2 separate regions of the Homo sapiens genome follow, and region 2 is linked to region 1. Evidence: fine-mapped QTL for protein levels in blood plasma. A gene starts in region 1. The other region holds a variant in brackets. All regions are shown on one strand. Distances are from middle to middle.

Region 1 (9,433 bases):
GGTTTCCTGGAAGCAAGGAAGAGCCAGGAGTCCAAGAATCTGTCAGAGAATAGCCAGAGCCAGGGATGGCACAGATGTATGGGTAGGCAGTAGGGAAAGCAAAGGTGTAGGAGACAGCTAGGATGAGCTTACATGCTTTTTAAATAAGTCAAAAGAAATGGTTTCCAGTATTGGTTTTTCCTGTTATATGCAACGCAACGTCTCTGCACTGGAGTGTCCTATCTCTCCCTAGACAGGACATTCTGCACTTGAATGTCCTATCTCTCCCTACCTAATTCAGCAACAAATATTTATCTGCTACGATCTCTTGAGACCAGGAGTTTAAGACCAGCCTGGCCAACATGCCAAAACCCCGTCTCTTCAAAAAATACAATAATTAGCTGGGCGTGGTGGCGAGTGCCTGTTGTCCCAGCTACTCGAGAGGCTGAGACAGGAGAGTCACTTGAGCCCTGGAGGCGGAGGTTGCAGTGAGCTGAGATCATGCCACTGTAACTGAGCCTGAGCGAAAGAGTGAGACTGTCTCAAAAAAAGAAAAAAGAAAAAGAAAAAGAAAAAGAAAATACAGTAGAGAAATACGAGCCCATTTTGGAAAATCTCATTTTTTGAGAAAGTAAGATTAAATGGCTCAGGATTTCTACTGACTTAGAAAATGCCTTTAAACAGTTTTAGAAAATTAAACCAAATTAATGCATATAAAGAATATCGATAACACATAAACGTGTAATTTATATTTATATTAAATGTATTTGTACCATATAATCTGCTTATGGTATACCTTCTTTTTATATCTCCAACCCCACTTCTGTCTTTATAAAATTTCTCAAAGAAAGTAGTACCTAATTTGCATATGTTAGAATGGAAATTATCCTGTAAAGATGCATCTACTAAATGCCAGATGTATTTAAGGAGCATCTACATTTGTAATAGACATAAGCCATTTCTAATTTAAATCACATGTTATTTTGTTTACTTTTTGAAAAGAATGTGACATGGAAAGGGCATCACCATCTAATGAAACCTCTTCATTTTACAAATTAGAAAAACAATGCCCAGAAAGTTGTAACTTACAGACATCTCGGAGTCATGAAGTGGTAGAGCTGGAACCAGGGCTCATGTCTGCTCAATGCCCACTCTCATCGCATTTCCACCATCTCACACACACACACACACACACACACACACACACACACAAACACTAGTGTCTCATGCATCTTATTGCTCACATTCTTTTCAAAAAGTAAATAGAACAACATGTGACATAATTTAGGAAGGGGACTTAAAAGTAAAGTGTGTATGACAGAAATAGGGCCACTTAATGGAAACAGCGATGCCAACAAATTACGTTCCTTAGCATTTTGCAAGAAATAGAGCTTTAAGGGGATCTAGAGACCAAATTCAATTTCCCAAGCCAATCATTTAACAGGGCGGTTGTACATTTAGGTTACCCTGAGTGTACAATAGCACTGGATTCGAGTTTTGCTTTTTGATTTTCATTTCTGTCTTTTGACAAGTTTTGTGATAGTAAAGGGGAAAGAATGTCCATCGACTTTCAATAGTCATTTCTACTATGACACCTCTGCTAAAACATCACCCTAATTTAGGCCCCAAGTAGCTCATGCCCAGATTATACCTACGAGACAATCAGGTCCTCTGGCCCACAGGCGCCCCCCCTTCCTATACTGCACCTCACTGACAGATTTATCACCTTTAAACCATTGTTTGCATCATATCACTCCCAGTCAAGCCCTGTGATGGTGTGTGTTTAATAGCTTATTGATTCTGTTCCAAATATTCTAATCTGGCTTTTTCAGTTCTTCATAATCTGTCTGCCTCTCAGAAATTCTACTCTTTCCAGTAAAGCATGCTCATTCGCATCGCCAACCCTTTACTAAATGCTTTTTCCCTTGTCTCTGTTCCCTCTTTCCTCTCTACTATTGCAAACTCTACCCAAGCCTCAAGGCACGCATTCGTGTCCTCCATTCAGCCTTTCCCCACTATTCCAGCCCCCGCTGTTGAGCTCTTTCTCCCTTTTCTGATTCCGTGAATTTTTCCACAGGTTACCCTGCTGGGCTTGCATATCCAAATTCAGTGCAAGTTCTAGGGCAGGAATCATGTTTTATTTTAGGAATCTCATGAGCCCTTTCCCCACCTCCATTGCTACATACCTCAGCACCTTGCTGACTACGACAGATTCTCAGGGAATACTTTGACTGTTGGATAGTTTAGACACGGTGGAGGAAGAGAATGTCAGCTACTTGCAAGCAATGCTGGCAAAAGCATCAGTACTATTTCTAGGGTTAAGTCTCAACCCCATTGCTCTTCTTCATGAATGTACACATTCACTCTACCACTAAATTGTTACTGACTCCTTCCTCTTCAGCGTTTGTTAAATAAGTTTATTTTCTCTAACCTTGGTCCTAAGTCTGATCCACCTCCAAGCAAGTTCACTGTACCTTTTTAGCCACCTCTCTTACTCCAAGGACACAGTCAAATGAAAGTTTTCATTTAGGCTCCCCCTCTCTTTCCTCAATAAGAGGAATTCCCATTCTTTTTCATTTGTGGTGTCCCCTTCCCAGGCTTGAAGGTAGGAGTGATATCGTGGTGACACTTCAGCTGTGGAGACTCTCCTCCTACCACATAAATGCTCCAAACCCAGATGTGTCTACAGCCCAGCTAAGATTAGAAAATGTTACTGGTTTCCCTTCCCTTCTCTGCCCCGCAAAATGACCATGATGCAGAGAGCAAGCTTTGAAGAGTTGGGATTTTTTCCTACTTAGAAGCCTTCTCACTACCTTCCCTCGGTGGAGGGGAAGGGGAAGCCTGCTTCCAGCCACATCTGAAGTTCCAGCTCTGCTTTGTGAGTTCTGACTCCTAAGGAGGCAGGAGAGACCCTCTGGAGGGCTCTAGGCATCCTGCTACTCCTCCTCCCGCTGGCACTCTTCCCTAACGCCAGGTGATCACACCTTCAGTCAAAGAGTTCCCGTTCTTCTGCCTCCTGCAGGATATGCTTCTTGGTCTATACTACCACGTGAGCTTCTTTAGTGGGTTTCCCTGCTCGCCCCTGCCCCCACCCCCCGACCCTCACTTGCGAGCACAGCGCCTCACCCCGGTGGACAGCCCGCCGGCGCCGCCAGGCCCTCTGCTGTGCGCACAAGTCAGCAGCTGGCGGCCTGCTCGCAGCACTGGCAGCGAGGACCTCGGAATCGCTTCCGCCCTCGGGCCTTCTCACGCGTCTAGGGACTGCCTCCAGCAGGTGCAGCCCCAGGTGCCCAATTGCCAGATCTTTAACCTCGCGCTCTCCCAGCCTTCAAAGTTCTCCAACCCGCGCCTGCCAGCCCCAGCGCGCCCTCTTGTCCAGATGCCAGCTCGGTTCAGGGTTCGCCCTCCCCGCGACTCCAGCCCCAGACTTTCCTCCTGGTTTCCAGTGCCCAGCACGGCCACTTACCCAGGGCAAGGGCCAGGAGCAGTGGCAGGGAGCTGGCGCCGCTGCACCGGGCGGCCCGGTCCATCAACCCCGCTCTGCCGGGCCGGGCAGCCCCTAGACAAGTCTCCCTCCTTCTTCGCCCCCTTCCCGGGCCTCGGGCGCCTGAGAGGGTGCCTGGAAACTAATCCCGGAGGCAGAAGGAAACGAAACTACTTCCCAGGCTGGCACCCTGGCTACAAGGCAGGGAAACACCCAGGGCGGGAGGCCGGCCGGCTCCGTGAATGTCGCCGGGAGGAGGGAGCCTCCTATTTATCCCCCCTCCTCCTGCACACACCCCGCCAAAGAGGCGCAGGACTTGGTCCTGGGAGCCTCCACGCTGCTCCCACCCAAATTGCCCCACACCCATACCCACACCCAGGGACATATTCGGGCTGCCCTCGGACCAGCTCACCACTCCCCCTGCTGGGTCTCACCTGACTGACTGTTCATTTCCCTACCCCCTAGGGCGTAAACAAGGTAGGGAGGGAGATGTAAAGAATCCGCGTGGAGGGGTGTCGGGGGTTCCGGTCGGGCCTGCAGGCTGACCTAAACTCCTGGAAGCCACCGAGGAAGAGTCAGAGACCCAAACGTGTTCTGGAATTCTAACTTCCTTTATTTCAGAGGATTGCTAGTGTCATGGAGAAACCAGACTCACCATTCATTGTGGTTGACTTCAGGCATTTGATAATGCAGGCAATTTCAAAAGAGTCATTGTTGCCTTTTAAAGTCTTGAAGCCATAGCGAAACCTCGTCTCTACAAAAAATACAAAAGTAAATTAATAGCCGGGTATGGTGGTGTGCACCTGCAGTCCCATCCATTCCCTGAGGCTGAGGTGGGGAGGATCGCTTAAGCTTGGGAGATGGAGCCTTCAATGAGCCTAGATCGAGCCACTTCACTCCAGCCAAGGCGCAAGAGTGAGACACTGTTTCAAAACAACGACAACAACAACAACAACATCAGCAACAAAAAAAAAAAAAAAAAAAAAGAAAAGAAATGAAAAAAGTCTTCAAGCTAGTGTCTTAGTTTCTGGGTGCATTGTCTTCTAATAATTCATAAAATTGGGGCTCACCAGGACCTACTTTAGAAATTTCATTTGTATTTCTGTTTATGAATTTACTCATGTATTCAGTATATTTTCATTTACTTGCATTAAGCAATTTCTGGAACAGAAAGACATCCTCACAGCTTTTAGAGAAAGCAAGCAGCATCCAATTTTACCTTATGTGGTTATATATTGCCTCCAAGATAACCAAAAGATACAGCTGCTTTTGTACTGGTCTGTGTTCCTCATATAAGATTTATGTGGATAATTATGCCCCTCAGTACAGAAATTTTATTTCTATAGCATCCAAAAGTCATGTAAGCCTTATTTTACATATGAAATGTAGTTTGGGTGTCTGCCTCTTCCTCCTCATCCTACTGTTTAAGTTAAGTAAATTGTTGTGCACTTGTCTCCCACGAATAACATTTCATTTCAAAACTAAATTATTTTACTGCCCCAGGCAACTGATATATCCGGTGGAATAAAAATCAGCTCTTAATTTTCAGAATCCCATTCTAGTCCCACATGACAGCTCATAAAACATTGGTAGAGAGGGCAGGCATGAAGTTTAAAGAAACCCAAAGTTGTAAGATGGAAGGTTACTGCACCCCAGCTAAAAAGAGCAGAAACACTGGAAGCCAATGGATTTTGACATCATCTCCCTCCCTCTCAACACTTCCACCCTGCATTTTTCTTTTCTGATATTCTCTCCATCTCTCAGCACCAGTGCCCTAAGTTAAAGTATCTCTTACTCCAAGATGGCATTTAGCCTAGCCAACAGCTGTCCTGTTAGCCCCAACAGAATGCTACAATTTTGTTTTCCTTTTTCGTAGATACTAATAAAAAAAAAAAAAAGCGAGACCTAAACAAAAAGTACTAAATGTTTGTTGAGCATTGGAAAATTCCAGGACTTGGTGTAAGTATTCATCATTTATGCCATTCAAGTGGTAAATTAACTTTTTCAGGCCACTAGAATATGAAGTAGTATAATTTAATATACTAAATAGGACAGATAAATTAATAACCTTCCTTGAGGGCTTTATTTACCACCATAAATAAAATAAGTACTCCCAAGAAAATCCAAATTTTCTGACACTGGATATCCAATCTCTTCAATGTTAAGAGACTTTTCCTGTCTTTTTTTGTTTGTTTCTTTTTTTTCCCCTCACTTTCTTTCTCTCTGTTCTTCCTCCTCTTCTTCCCTCTCCTTCTCCTTCTTCTTTTTCTCCCCCAGCCCCCAACCACCTCTCTCTCTCAAGTCATTTGCTTATGGGGCATGGTAAAGCTGGAATACAACCATTACATTTGGAAGAGTGGAAGGTAAGAATTGATTTTCCTGAGTCCTCAAACATGTAACTGAGTTGCGTCTCAGTGCTTTCATTTGCAAGCTGAGCTGTTACTAAGAGAAAAATAAACCAAAGTTACACCAGAGTCACAAGGTGAAACTTGTATTCCTAGTTAACCCCAAGGTAGGAATTGCTTGAGTGCTGTTCTTCCTGTGCCAGGTTTAGGCAGGTATAACCAGTCCTCCCAAATCTGGTATGAGGCTTAAGTAGATTCCTTTGGAGGGCCTTTAAGCATCAGCCTTTTTCTCTTCCCACACAGAACAGCCTGCAGCTGGGACCGTCCTCCCCGTCTTCTGGACAGGACAAAATAAACTTGTAGTTACATATAGGGCACAACACATAAACAGACACACGCCATGATGGAAAGGAAAATTTTGGAATGCATTCCTTCTAGGCCAACATGTATTCTCCAAATGAAGGCTTTAAGGCATTCAGTAGTATAGGAAAATTTCCTAATGACCATTAACTTTATTTAATAAGAGTGGGTGAATGAAAATGATGAAAGGCATTTTTAAAATTGTAATTTTTATAGTAATGATAAGCATCATGCATTGTAGATTATTAGTGGTACAGTTACATAGAGAGAACTTTCAAATATTTTATTTAAAACTACTGAATTGGTTTCTAAGAATGTATCAGTGAAAAATCACTGCTCAAAAGTTGTATTCAGGTAATTGTATTTTATAATCTAGTTGTTCTGAGGGAGGTAGTTATTTTTTTTCCTGCCTACTTTCTTGTATCTTCCTCTTCAGTCTAGGGGATCCACTTTTTATATGTATTTCTCAATGTGTTTGATTTGTATCTCTTTTATTTTTATTTATTTTGTTTTTTGAGACAAAATCTTGCTCTTGTCCCCCAGGCTGGAGTGCAATGGCGTGATCTCTGCTCACTGCAACCTCTGCCTCCGGGTTCAAGCAATTCTCCTGTCTCAGCCTCCCAAGTAGCTGGGGATTGCTGGCACCTGCCACCACACCCAGCTAATTTTTTGTGGTTTTTTTTTAGTAGAGATGGGGTTTCACCATGTTGGCTAGACTGGTCTCGAACTCCTGACCTCAGGAGATCCACCTCGGCCTCCCAAAGTGCTGGGATTACAGGCGTGAGCAACCACGCCCGGCTGACTTGCTATCTCTTTTAAATGGCAGCTTAACATATGTTATTAAACCTCAAAAATAATTGTCTCTGTGACATTATACCTGTTAGTTTCAGTTCACCATGATGATCTTTTTCTTTGGCCATATTGAAACATACTTCAAAAAGTAACTTCTGATTTTAAAAAATCTGGGCTTTTGTGCTGGCCCTAGTTGTAGGCTAAGTGAGAAAGCACCTATGTGGCCCTAGACATCTCTTCCTAAAGTCCTTGCCACAGTGGCTTCATCTCTTCCTACTTGGTCCCAGACTTCCAGCAAGGTAGACACTCCTCTAGGTGGGACAACAGAGCTGGAATATTATGTACAATTGGTTTTGGAATCTGTTCAGTCTGTTCAATTTGGATCTGTGTCACCCAATGACTGAACCACAAACTACTTACCTCTCTGAACCTCAGTTTCCTCATTGATAAAATGTGATGGTAATGACTTGCACAGTTTTTATGATTCCCAATAATACATATCTTCAAGGAAAAAATCTGGTGTATTAGAAACTGTTCAGTGAATTATAGTTGATAGTAGTAGGAGTAGGAGTACTAGTAGTAGTAGTATTGGTAGAGATGGGTGTCTCACTATGTGACTAGTCTCGAACTCCTGGCCTCAAGTAATCTTTCCTCCTCAGCCTCCCAAAATGCTAGTATTACAAGCATGAGCCACCATGTTCCACTGATAGTTGTTATGTCATTATAAAATTTTACATGGTACATAGAGAGAACCAGTAGGAAAAGGCATCCTTACTAACCCTCTCTTACTAATAGTTGAAGTAGAGAAAGAAAGGCACAGAGCAAGGCTCTGCTGGGAAAGTAACACTGAGCTAAAATTCCATGGATTTGGGTACAATTTTGCCTCTTCATATGCCCTTACACCTCCCTTACACCTCTCTGACCACCTTCTCCATCCTTTTTATTTCTCCTTCCTCCTTCAACTCTCTTTAGAGACCAAGATAGCACGTAACCCAGGATACAAAAACGTGTTGAATATAAACAAAGTACTGTGATTTGAAGATTTAAATAAATGAGCTACCTAGTTTCCCAGAATGCAAAGAAATAAATTCAAAAATTAACTCAAAAAATGAATGTTTGTTGTTGTTGTTGTTGTTGTTGTTGTTTTTGAGACAGAGGAGTCTCACTCTGTTGCTCAGGCTGGAGTGCAATGGCGCAATCTTGGCTCACTGCAAACTCTGCCTCCCGGGTTCAAGTGATTCTCCTGCCTCAGTCTCCCAAGTAACTGGGATTGCAGACATGCATCACCACGCCAAGCTAATTTTTGTATTTTTAGTAGATACGGGGTCTCCCCATGTTGGCCATGCTGTTCTTGAACTCTCGACCTCAGGTGATCCACCCAGCTCGGCCTCCCAAAGTGCTGAGATTACAGGTGTGAGCCACCGCACCCAGCCAAATAATGAATGCTTAATGAGTTTACAACAAACTAACACAGCTTTACGTGGTCATTTTCCCTCCTTCCCCCAACTTCTTGGTAAGGAGAAATGGTGACAGGAAAGAGTAAGAAATGAGAAGCAGCAAAGCTGGAGAAGAGAGGGAGGATGAGCTTAAAATAATTCTTCAAAAAATCTTTCATAGATGCAGAATGATATGTTAAAGGAGTTAAAAAAAAGGTGAAATCTACCTCTTGTATCATCTTCGTTTCTCATCCTTCCTTTGTTTTAAGGTGACATCAATATACATGTTATTAACCTCAAAATAATTTAATGGTCCTTATGATTCCCCCAAACAATTCAGTTATATCTTTAGTCTAACAATCCTTGGAATTTAAGATTTTTTCAGAGATAACTACATGTCTTCCTTTAATGATACATTTAAATTGCTTTTATATTTCTCATAGTGTAATTTTTTCGGAAATATTTCTTTAGCCCTATAATATATACCTGCCATCTGTCCATAAATACAGTATTTTTAAAACGCTAAAACTAATGTAAACTCTTCAGAAATGACTTAGCAGAAAATATGATATCATGCTTACAAAATATTCTGAAGTTACTGTCCTTTGTCTTTAAGGTATATTGAAAGTTCTTATTATTGTCCCTATGAATCTCTGTAAGATACTTTTAATAATTTTGTCCCCAGCATTACCACCTAATAATGGTCCACATAACTAGTTAGTTTTGAGATCCAAGGAGTATAATCCACAAATGCAAACAAGTTTAAACCTTAGAAAATAAAACCAGCATTACTCTCTAAATTTACTATGTTTAGGCTTTTGGGAGATAAGAAAAACTAGTATCCGTTTAATTTAATAAGAATTAATTATCTACATTTGTACAATACTTTCCCATATATTAACGATTTGAATTTAAAGTAGCTGCTGAGATAGGCAGGCAGTATTATTATTCTCATCTTAATGAGAGGAAATAGATGTCTGCATAGTCAAGTGATTGGTCCAACTTTCAAAGTAACTCCTAGAATCAAGGTCTAAAGG
Region 2 (9,433 bases), 86 kb before region 1:
TATTCTAAGCTCTTTCTATGTAACTCGTTTAATATTCACTGAAATCCCATGACAAAGGTACTGTTAGTAGGAAAACTGAGGCTCAGAGAGGTTCAGAAATTTGCCCAAACACACGCAAATAAGTGGTTTGTATTTGAACCCAGGCAGTCTGATTCCTGAGCATCCAGAATCTATGCTTTTAACTGCATACAGCACAACTTTTAGCATTTTGTCAGTCATCTTTGGAAAATAAGAGGTTTTAATGCTAAGTGTTGGGCTCACAGGAGTTAAAACTACTTTGGCAGGACAATAAGAAAAGATAATTTGCATAAAAAGTCCTCACATCAGACCTTGTAGATAAAAACCTACCAATGGCGTGCCAAACCAAGTTCACTGTTTCTCTTCATAAGGTTAAATGAAGACTCTTGAGGAGATAAAAGATTCCCTCATCTCAAGAACTTACTACCCAAATGACACTTGTAGTAGTCTTTCTGTTCCAGTGATGATCTGGTGCTCCTTTAAGGAAGGAGTGGGATCCTATAAATAGGAAGATGATCTGCTTGGGTGCCATTCTATAGGATGGCACTATTTCCCAAACTGGAGTATGTTTTGATTGTCTCTTCTTCACTCCATTGGTGAGGGAGGCATTCCCACCCTGGAATTATAGGGATGGCAGAACACACAACGCCCAGCACTGGGCAGATTATATCCCAGCAGTTTATCAGTCACATAGATGCACAGACTGGGGAAGAACACTGCACTCCACTCAGGACGGCGGGGTGAGTTGCATTTGGGAACACAGTGAACAAGCAGAGTTGTGGGAGGCAGGCTTTGTAGTACCAAGAGGGTGAGGTGACCCTTGATTCCTGCAGAAGCACGTGCTTGGCTTGTTTTAATAATGTTGCAGGCCCAGAATTAAAGCCTGCTATTGAGGGATAAACAGACACTGTGCCTGGTTCCTCTGGTAAGTAGTGTTGTTTGGCTGGAGGACTTTATCCACAGGAGTAGAGTGGAGGAGGGGGGAGCTTGTGATTAGGCCATTAAAAACTCTCCCAGTTTCAGATGGCAAAGAAGCACATAATGCTGAATCTTAATTTCAAGCCTGATACCACAAGGCGGAGGACAGTCACGGGTGATAGCAAGATGTGTTCATGTGGTTCACAACACATACATAAGTATATTGATTATCTAGTGAGAAAATTACTCCTTTTGCTGGGATTGAATGAGAATTTCATTCAATCCTCAGATTTTATCAAGGAGGAAATTTGGGGTCAATGCCATTGTGCATTTACCAGCTCTCAAAGACTTGCTCATCTCCCTTTCTAACAATAACAAAGCAAGTCCAAAACCTTTTCCATGGGCAGTTAATACTATCTATCCAGAATTTTAAAATATTGTTTCCTTTTCGTTGCATTAATATTTGTTGTTTGCCTTCTATTTATAGAGATGCTGATATTCTAATTACGATAGTGATATAGTTGCCTTTTAAATAACTATGAATTTAAAACACAGGAAATAAAGGAATATCAAGTAAATAATACTATAGTAAATAGCACAGAGAAATGTATAATTATTGAACAAGATTCCAACATTTGGGAAATTCTTTAGTATGAGATAATGGTTTTCCTGGCTCATCCACTATGGGCACAGTGATAATGACTGTTAATATTAACAGAATACATTAAGTTTGGATATGAATGGTATCTGAGCAAGTTCTTTCTAATTCAAGACACTCAAAGACTAAAGATTACAGAAAAAGTTTAGTTGCAAAGATCAAAACTTATATAATGAAATCAATTATATATAGTCCTATCAAACAGTAAATAACCACACACATCTGTAGTTCAAGTAATGGTATCGACTATTGTTTCCCTATCTCAGAGAATGAATGAAAACTAAGTTGGGGTGACAGAGGTTAAGCCTCTATTCTGGTTATAATCTTTTGTGATTTAGGCTACAGTTTTAATTTCTTTGTCATGTGCTTTATGTATTTTTTTTGAAATGATACAGCATAGTACATACAAGATAAGTTGGGCTTTATAGCTAAACAGACCTGGGTTCAAATTCTGCCTCTGCCATCCACTTGCTGGGTGACTTTGAACAAATTATTTAGCCTCTCTGTACCTTGCTTCCTCATCTATAAGAAGAGATTATACGTCATTTGAAGAAATTGTCTGAGCAGTGGAACTAGTAAGTAAAAAGGACTGTGTATAGTGCCTGGCAGCACAGTAAGCCCCTGAGAGCTGGCAAATGGAACAATCTGCTTAAAGTTTGAGGTTTAAAGTTTAATGCTTCTCTGTCTGAGCTGTAGTTAACATTAACTATTTCACTCTCTCTGTAATTCTCTTATTTGTTGCCACAGAAATATGAAATTCAAGAACTCTGTAGACAGAAGTCTCCTCCTTTGCCAACGCATCCTAGCAATTCCCTCTGCAAAATACCTCTTAGAAAAACACCAAAGACATGGACTCAGCCTAAATGCCGACCAAGGATAGACTGGAAAAAGAAAATGTGGTACATATACACCATGGAACACTATGCAGCCATAAAAAAATGGGATCATATCCTTTGAAGGGGCATGGATGGAGCTGGAGTTCATTATTCTTAGAAAAGTAAAACAGAAAAAGAAAAGCAAGTACTACATGTTCTCACTTATAAGTGGGAGCTAAATGATGAGAATACATGAACACATAGAGGGGAACAAAACACTCTGGGGACTTTCAGAGGATGGAGGGTCAGAGAAAAGAGAGGATCAGGAAAAATAACTAAGTAATTCATCACCCAAGTACTAGGCTTAATACTTGAGTGATGAAATAATCTGTACAACAAACCTCCATGACACCAGTTTACCTATGTGACACCAGTTTACCTATGTAACATACCTGCACTTGTACCCTGAAGTTAAAATAAAAGTTTTTTTTTAAAAAAAGAAAACACCTGCTCTAGCTATAGGTGATGCGATTTCTTTTAATCAAATTTGCTTTAGGTAGGGAGAAAGTCTCTATCATTATGAGCAAGGTGCCCAGGATAAAAGCTTCTGAAGGACTCACAGGAAAGTTTGAGACCTGGAAAAATGTATTGGTACTGGCATATGCAAATAAAAGTCTTACTAAATCAAAATTGATAAAAGTTTAGTTAACTACAAAGCATAATATTATGCTGTAGTGGACTGAATGAGATATCCAGCACTGACCTCCAGAATCCATAAATATTACCTATTTGAAAAAAAAATCTTTGCAGAAATAAGTTAAGGATGTTTAGATGAGGAGATACTCTTGGATTATCTGAGCCAGCCCTAAATGCCATCACAAGGGTCCATAGAACAGAGAGACAGAGGAGGAAGTTATCACAGAGAGAAGAAGGTGATGTGGAGATTGAGACAATGAATGAAGAGATATACCTACAAACTAGAAAATGCCAACAGCCTCCAGAAGCTGGGACAGTCCAGGAACATCCTCTGTGGTAGCTCCCAGAGCAGGTACAAACCTGTCAACACCTTGATTTTAACCTGGTGAAATTGATTTATTTACTATTATACATTAAGTTCTGGGATACATGTGCAGAATGTGCAGGTTTCTTACATAGGTATACATGTGACATGGTGGTTTGATGCACCGATCAACCTGTCATCTACATTAGGTATTTCTCCTAATGCTATCCCTCCCCTAGCCTTCCACCCCCCAACAGGCCCCAGTGTGTGATGTTCCCCTCCCTGTGTCCATGTGTTCTCATTGTTCAGCTCCCAATTATGAGCGAGAAAATGTGGTATTTGGTTTTCTGTTGCTGTGTTAGTTTGCTGAGAATGATGGTTTCCAGCTTCATCCATGTCCCTGCAAAGGACATGAACTTATCCTTTTTTACGGCTGCATAGTATTCCATGGTATATATGTACCACATTTTCTTTATCCAGTCTATCATTGATGGGCATTTGGGTGGGTTCCAAGTCTTTGATA[C/T]TGTGAATAGTGCTGCAATAAACATATATGTGCACGTGTCTTTATAGTAGAATGATTTATAATCCTTTGGGTATATACCCAGTAACTGGATTGCTGAGTCAAATGGTATTTCTGGTTCTAAATCCTTGAGGAATCACCACACTATCTTCCACAATGGTTGAACTAATTTACACTCCCACCAACAGTGTAAAAGTATTCCTATTTCTCCGCATCTTTGCCAGCATCTGTTGTTTCCTGACTTTTTAATGATTGCCATTCTAACTGGCATGAGATGGTATCTCATTGTAGTTTTGATTTGCATTTCTCTAATGACCAGTGATGATGAGCTTTTTTTCATGTTTATTGGCTGCATGAATGTCTTCTTTTGAGAAGTGTCTGTCATAGCCTTCACTCACTTTTTGATGGGGTTGTTTTTTCCTTATAAATTTGTTTAAGTTCCTCATAGATTCTGGTATTAGCCCTTTGTCAGATGGATAGATTGCAAAAATTTTCTCCCATTCTCTAGGTTGCCTGTTTGCTCTGATGATAGTTTCTTTTGCTGTGCAGAAGCTCTTTAGTTTAATTAGATCCATTTGTCAGTTTTGGCTTTTGTTGCCACTGCTTTGGTGTTTTAGTCATGAAGTCTTTGCCCATGCCTATGGCCTGAATGCTACTGCCTAGGTTTTCTTCTAGGGTTTCTATGGTTTTAGGTCTCACATTTAAATCTTTAATTCATCTTGACTTAATTTTTGTATAGTGTGTGTGGAAGGGATCCAGTTTCAGTTTTCTGCATATGGCTAGCCAGTTTTCCCAACACCACTTATTAAATAGGGAATCCTTTCCCTATTGCTTGTTTTTGTCAGGTTTGTCAAAGATCAGATGGTAGTAGATGTGTGGCGTTATTTCTGAGGCCTCTGTTCTGTTCCGTTCATCTATATATCTGTTTTGGTACCAGTACCATGCTGTTTTTGTTACTGTAGCCCTGTAGTATAGTTTGAAGCTAGGTAGCTTGATGCCTCCAGCTTTGTTCTTTTTGCTTAGGATTGTCTTGGCTATGCAGGCTCTTTTTTGGTTCCATATGAAATTTAAACTAGTTTTTTCCTAATTCTGTGAAGAAAGTCAATGGTAGCTTGATGGAGATAGCACTGAATTTATAAATTGCTTTAGGCAGTATGGCCATTTTCACAATATTTATTTTTACTATCCATGGGCATAAAATGTTTTTCCATTTGTGTCCTCTCTTATTTGGTTGAGCAGTGGTTTGTAGTTCTCCTTGAAGAGGTCCTTCACATCCCTTGTAAGTTGGATTCCTAGGTATTTCATTCTCTTTGTAGCAATTGTGAATGGGAGTTCTCTCATGATTTGGCTCTCTGTTTTTCTATTATTGGTGTGTAGGAATGCCTGTGGTTTTTGCACATTGATTTTTGTATTCTGAGACGTTGCTGAAGTTGCTTATCTGCTTAAGGAGATTTGGGGTTGAAACGATGGGGTTTTCTAAATATACAATCATGTCATCTGAAAACAGAGACAATTTGACTTCCTCTCTTTGTATTTGAATACCTATCATTTCTTTCTCTTGCCTGATTGCCATGGCCAGAACTTCCAATACTATGTTGAATAGGAGTGGTGAGAGAGGGCATCCTTGTCTTGTGCTGACTTTCAAAGGGAATGCTTCTGGCTTTTGCCCATTCAGTATGATATCAGTTGCGGGTTTGTCATAAATAGCTTTTATTATTTTGAGATACGTTCCATCAGTACCTAGTTTATTGAGAGTTTTTCACATGAAGGGGCACTGAATTTTATCAAAGGCCTTTTCTGCATCTATTGAGATAATCATGTGGTTGTTATCATTGGTTCTGTTTATGTGATGGATTATGTTTACTGATTTGCGTATGTTGAACCAGCCTTGCATCCCAGGGATGAATCCGGCTTGATGGTGATGGATAAGCTTTTTGATGTGCTACTGGATTCAGTTTGCCATTATTTTATTGTGGATTTTTGCATCAATATTCATCAGGGATATTGGCCTGAAATTTTCTTTTTTGTTTGTGTCTCTGCCAGGTTTTGGTATCAGGATGATGCTGGCCTCATAAAATGAGTTAGGGAGGAGTCACTCTGTTTCTATTGTTTGGAATAGTTTCAGAAGGAATGGTACCAGCTCCTCTTTGTACCTCTGGTAGAATTTGGTAGTAACTCTGTATGGTCCTGGGCTTTTTGTGGTTGGTAAGCTATTAATTACTGCCTTAATTTCAGAACTTGTTATTGGTCTTTTCAGGGATTTGACTTCTTCCTTGTTTAGTCTTGGAAGGGTGTATGTGTCCAGGAATTTGTCCATTTCTTCTAGATTTTCTAGTTTATTTGCATAGAGGTTTTTTTAGTATTTTCTGATGGTAGTTTGTATTTCTGTGGGATCAGTGGTGATATCCCCTTTATCATTTTTTGTCAATTTGATTCTTCTTTCTTTTCTTCTTTATTAATCTGGCTAGTGGTCTTTTTATTTTGGTACACTTTTCAAAAAACCAGCTCCTGGATTCCTTGATTTTTTGAAGCATTTTTTATGTCTCTATCTCCTTCAGTTCTGCTCTGATCTTAGTTATTTCTTGTCTTCTACTAGCTTTTGAATTTGTTTGCTCTTGCTTCTCTAGTTCTTTTAATTGTGATGTTAGGGTGTCGATTTTAGATCATTCTCCCCTTTCTCATGTGGGCATTTAGTGCTGTAAATTTCCCTCTACATACTGTTTAGCTGTGTCCCAGAGATTCTGGTACATTGTGCCTTTGTTCTCATTTGTTTCAATGAACTTATTTATTTCTGCCTTAATTTTGTTATTTACCCAGTAGTCATTCAGGAGCAGGTTTTTCAGTTTCCATGTAGTTGTATGTTTTTGAGTGAGTTTCTTAATCCTTCTTCTAATTTGATTGCACTGTAGGCTGAGAGACTGTTGTGATTTCCATTCTTTTGCATTTGCTAAGGAGTATTTTACTGCCAACTATGTGGTCAGTTTTAGAATAACTGTGATGTGGTGCTGAGAAGAATGTATATTCTGTCGATTTGGAGTGAAGAGTTCTTTTATGTCTATTAGGTCTGCTTGGTCCAGAGCTGAGTTCAAGTCCTGAATATCCTTCTTAATTTTCTGTCTCATTGATCTGTCTAACATTGACAGTGGGGTGTTAAAGTCTCCCACTATTACTGTGTGGGAGTCTAAGTCTCTTTGTAGGTCTCTAAGAATTTGCTTTATGAATCTGGGTGCTCCTGTATTGGTTGCATATATATTGAGAATAGTTAGCTCTTCTTGTTTCATTGATCCCTTTACCATTATGTAATGCCCTTCTTTGTCTTTTTTGATCTTTGTTGTTTTAAAGTCTGTTTTATCAGAGACTAGGTTTGCAACCCTGCTTTTTTTTTTTTTTTTTTTTTGCTTTCCATTTGCTTGGTAAATATTCCATCATCCCTTTATTTTGAGCCTATGTGTGTCTTTGCACATGAGATGGGTCTCCTGAATACAGCACACCAATGGGGCTTGACTCTTTATCCAATTTGTCAGTCTGTGTCTTTTAATTGGGGTGTTTAGCCCATGTACATTTAAGGTTAATATTGTTATGTGTGAATTTGATTCTGTCATTATGATGTTTTCTGGTTATTTTGCTTTTTAGTTGATGCAGTTTCTTCATAGTTTCAATGGTCTTTATAATTTGGTATGTTTTTGCAGTGGCTGGTACCGGTTGTTCCTTTCCATATTTAGTGCTTTCCTCAGGAGCTCTTGCAAGGCAGTCCTGGTGGTGACAAAATCTCTCAGCATCTTCTTGTCTGTGAAGGATTTTATTTCTCCTTCACTTATGAAGCTTAGTTTGGCTGGGTATGAAATTCTGGGTTGAAAATTCTGTTCTTTAAGAATGTTGAATATTGGCCCCCACTGTTTTCTGGCTTATAGGCTTTCTGTAGAGAGATCCACTGTTAATCTGATGGGCTTCCCTTTGTGATTAACACAACCTTTCTCTCTGTCTGCCCTTAACATTTTCCTTTTATTTCTACCTCGGTGAATCTGACAATTATGTGTCTTGGGGTTGCTCTTCTCAAGAGGTATCTTTGTGGTGTTCTCTGCATTTTCTGAATATGAATGCTGGCCTGTCTTGCTACATTGAGGAATTTCTCCTGGATAATATCCTGAAGAGTGTTTTCCAACTTGGTTCCATTCACCCCATCATTTTCAGGTACACCAATAAAACATGGGTTTGGTCTTTTCACATAGTCCCATATTTCTTGGAGGCTTTGTTCATTCCTTTTTCTCTAATCTTGTCTTCACACTTTATTTCATTAAGTTTATCTTCAATCTTTGAAATCCTTTCTTCCCACTTGATTGATTTGTCTATTGATACCTATGTATGCTTCATGAGGTTCTCATGCTGTGTTTATCAGCTCCATCAGATCATTTATATTCTTCTCTAAACTGTTTAATCTAGTTAGCAACTCCTCTAACCTTTTTTCAAGGTTCTTAGCTTCCTTGCTTTGGGTTAGAACATGCTCCTTTAGCTTGGAGGAGTTTGTTATTACCCACCTTCTGAAGTCTACTTCTGTCAATTCGTCAAACTCATTCTCCATCCAGTTTTGTTCCCTTGCTGGTGAGGAGTTGTGATCCTTTGGAGGAGAAGAGGCATTCTGATTTTTGGAATTTTCAGCCTTTTTGTGCTGGTTTTTCCTCATCTTCATGGATTTATCTACCTTTGGTCTTTCATGTTGGTGACCTTTGGATGGGGTTTCTGTGTGGACATCTTTTTTGTTGACATTGATGCTATTCCTTTCTGTTTCTTAGTTTTCCTTTTGACAGTCAGGCCCCTCTGCTGCAGGTCTGCTGGAGTCTGCTGGAGTTTGCTCCAGACCCTGTTTGCCTGGGTATCACCAGTGGAGGCTGCAGAACAGCAAAGATTGCTGCCTGTTCTTTCCTCTGGAAGCTTCATCCCAGAGGGGCACCCACCAGATGGCAGCTGGACCTCTCCTGTATGACGTGTCTGTTGACCCCTGCTGGGAGCTGCCTCCCAGTCAGGAGGCACAGGGATCAGGGACCCACTTGAGGAGGCAGTCTGTCTATTAGCAGAGCTCAAGCGCTGTGCTGGGAGATCCACCGCTGTCTTCAGAACTGGCAGGCAGAAACGTTTAAGTCTACTGAAGCTGCGCCCATAGTCGCCCCTTCCCCCAGGTGCTCTGTCTCAGGGAGGTGGGAGTTTTATCTATAAGCCCCTGACTGGGGTTGCTGCCTTTCTTTCAGAGATGACCCACCCAGAGCGGAGGAGTCTAGAGATGCAGTCTGGATACACCAGCTTTGTGGCACTGTGGTGGGCTCTGCCCAGTTTGAACTTCTCAGTGGCTTTGTTTACATGGTGAGGGGAAAAATCCCTACTCAAGCTTCAGTAATGGTGGATGCCCCTCCCCCCACCAAGCTGGAGCTTCCCAATTTGACTTCAGACTGCTGTGCTGGCAGCGAGAATTTCAAGCCAGTGGATCTTAGCTTGCTGGGCCCCATGGAGGT

Alleles and levels. Positions count from the first base shown, and alleles are read on the strand shown. Strength reflects both the effect of a copy and how common the allele is.
For the plasma level of the protein whose gene starts at base 3,707 in region 1, T is the high allele of the variant in region 2 and C is the other (strong association).

What was found. A credible set is the group of variants that fine-mapping cannot tell apart. PIP is the chance, under the fine-mapping model, that this variant and not a neighbour inherited with it causes the effect. Protein levels are from antibody-based Olink assays in UK Biobank. Linkage for the fine-mapping came from a reference panel and not from the study's own genotypes, which makes the PIPs less certain.
Region 2: its variant is the best candidate, but not a certain one, in a credible set for the plasma level of the BTC protein (UK Biobank, PIP 0.73).

What each region holds. Positions count from the first base shown.
Region 1 is chr4:74,790,817-74,800,249 of GRCh38, forward strand. It overlaps BTC (betacellulin), which reads right to left and starts at 3,707. Exons shown (of 6, transcript NM_001729.4): 1 at 3,446-3,707. The coding sequence starts at 3,509.
Region 2 is chr4:74,704,475-74,713,907 of GRCh38, forward strand. No RefSeq gene overlaps it. Among named protein-coding and RNA genes, the nearest start is that of BTC, 85 kb to the right of the region's middle. The variant C/T (reference allele first, on the strand shown) is at 3,933.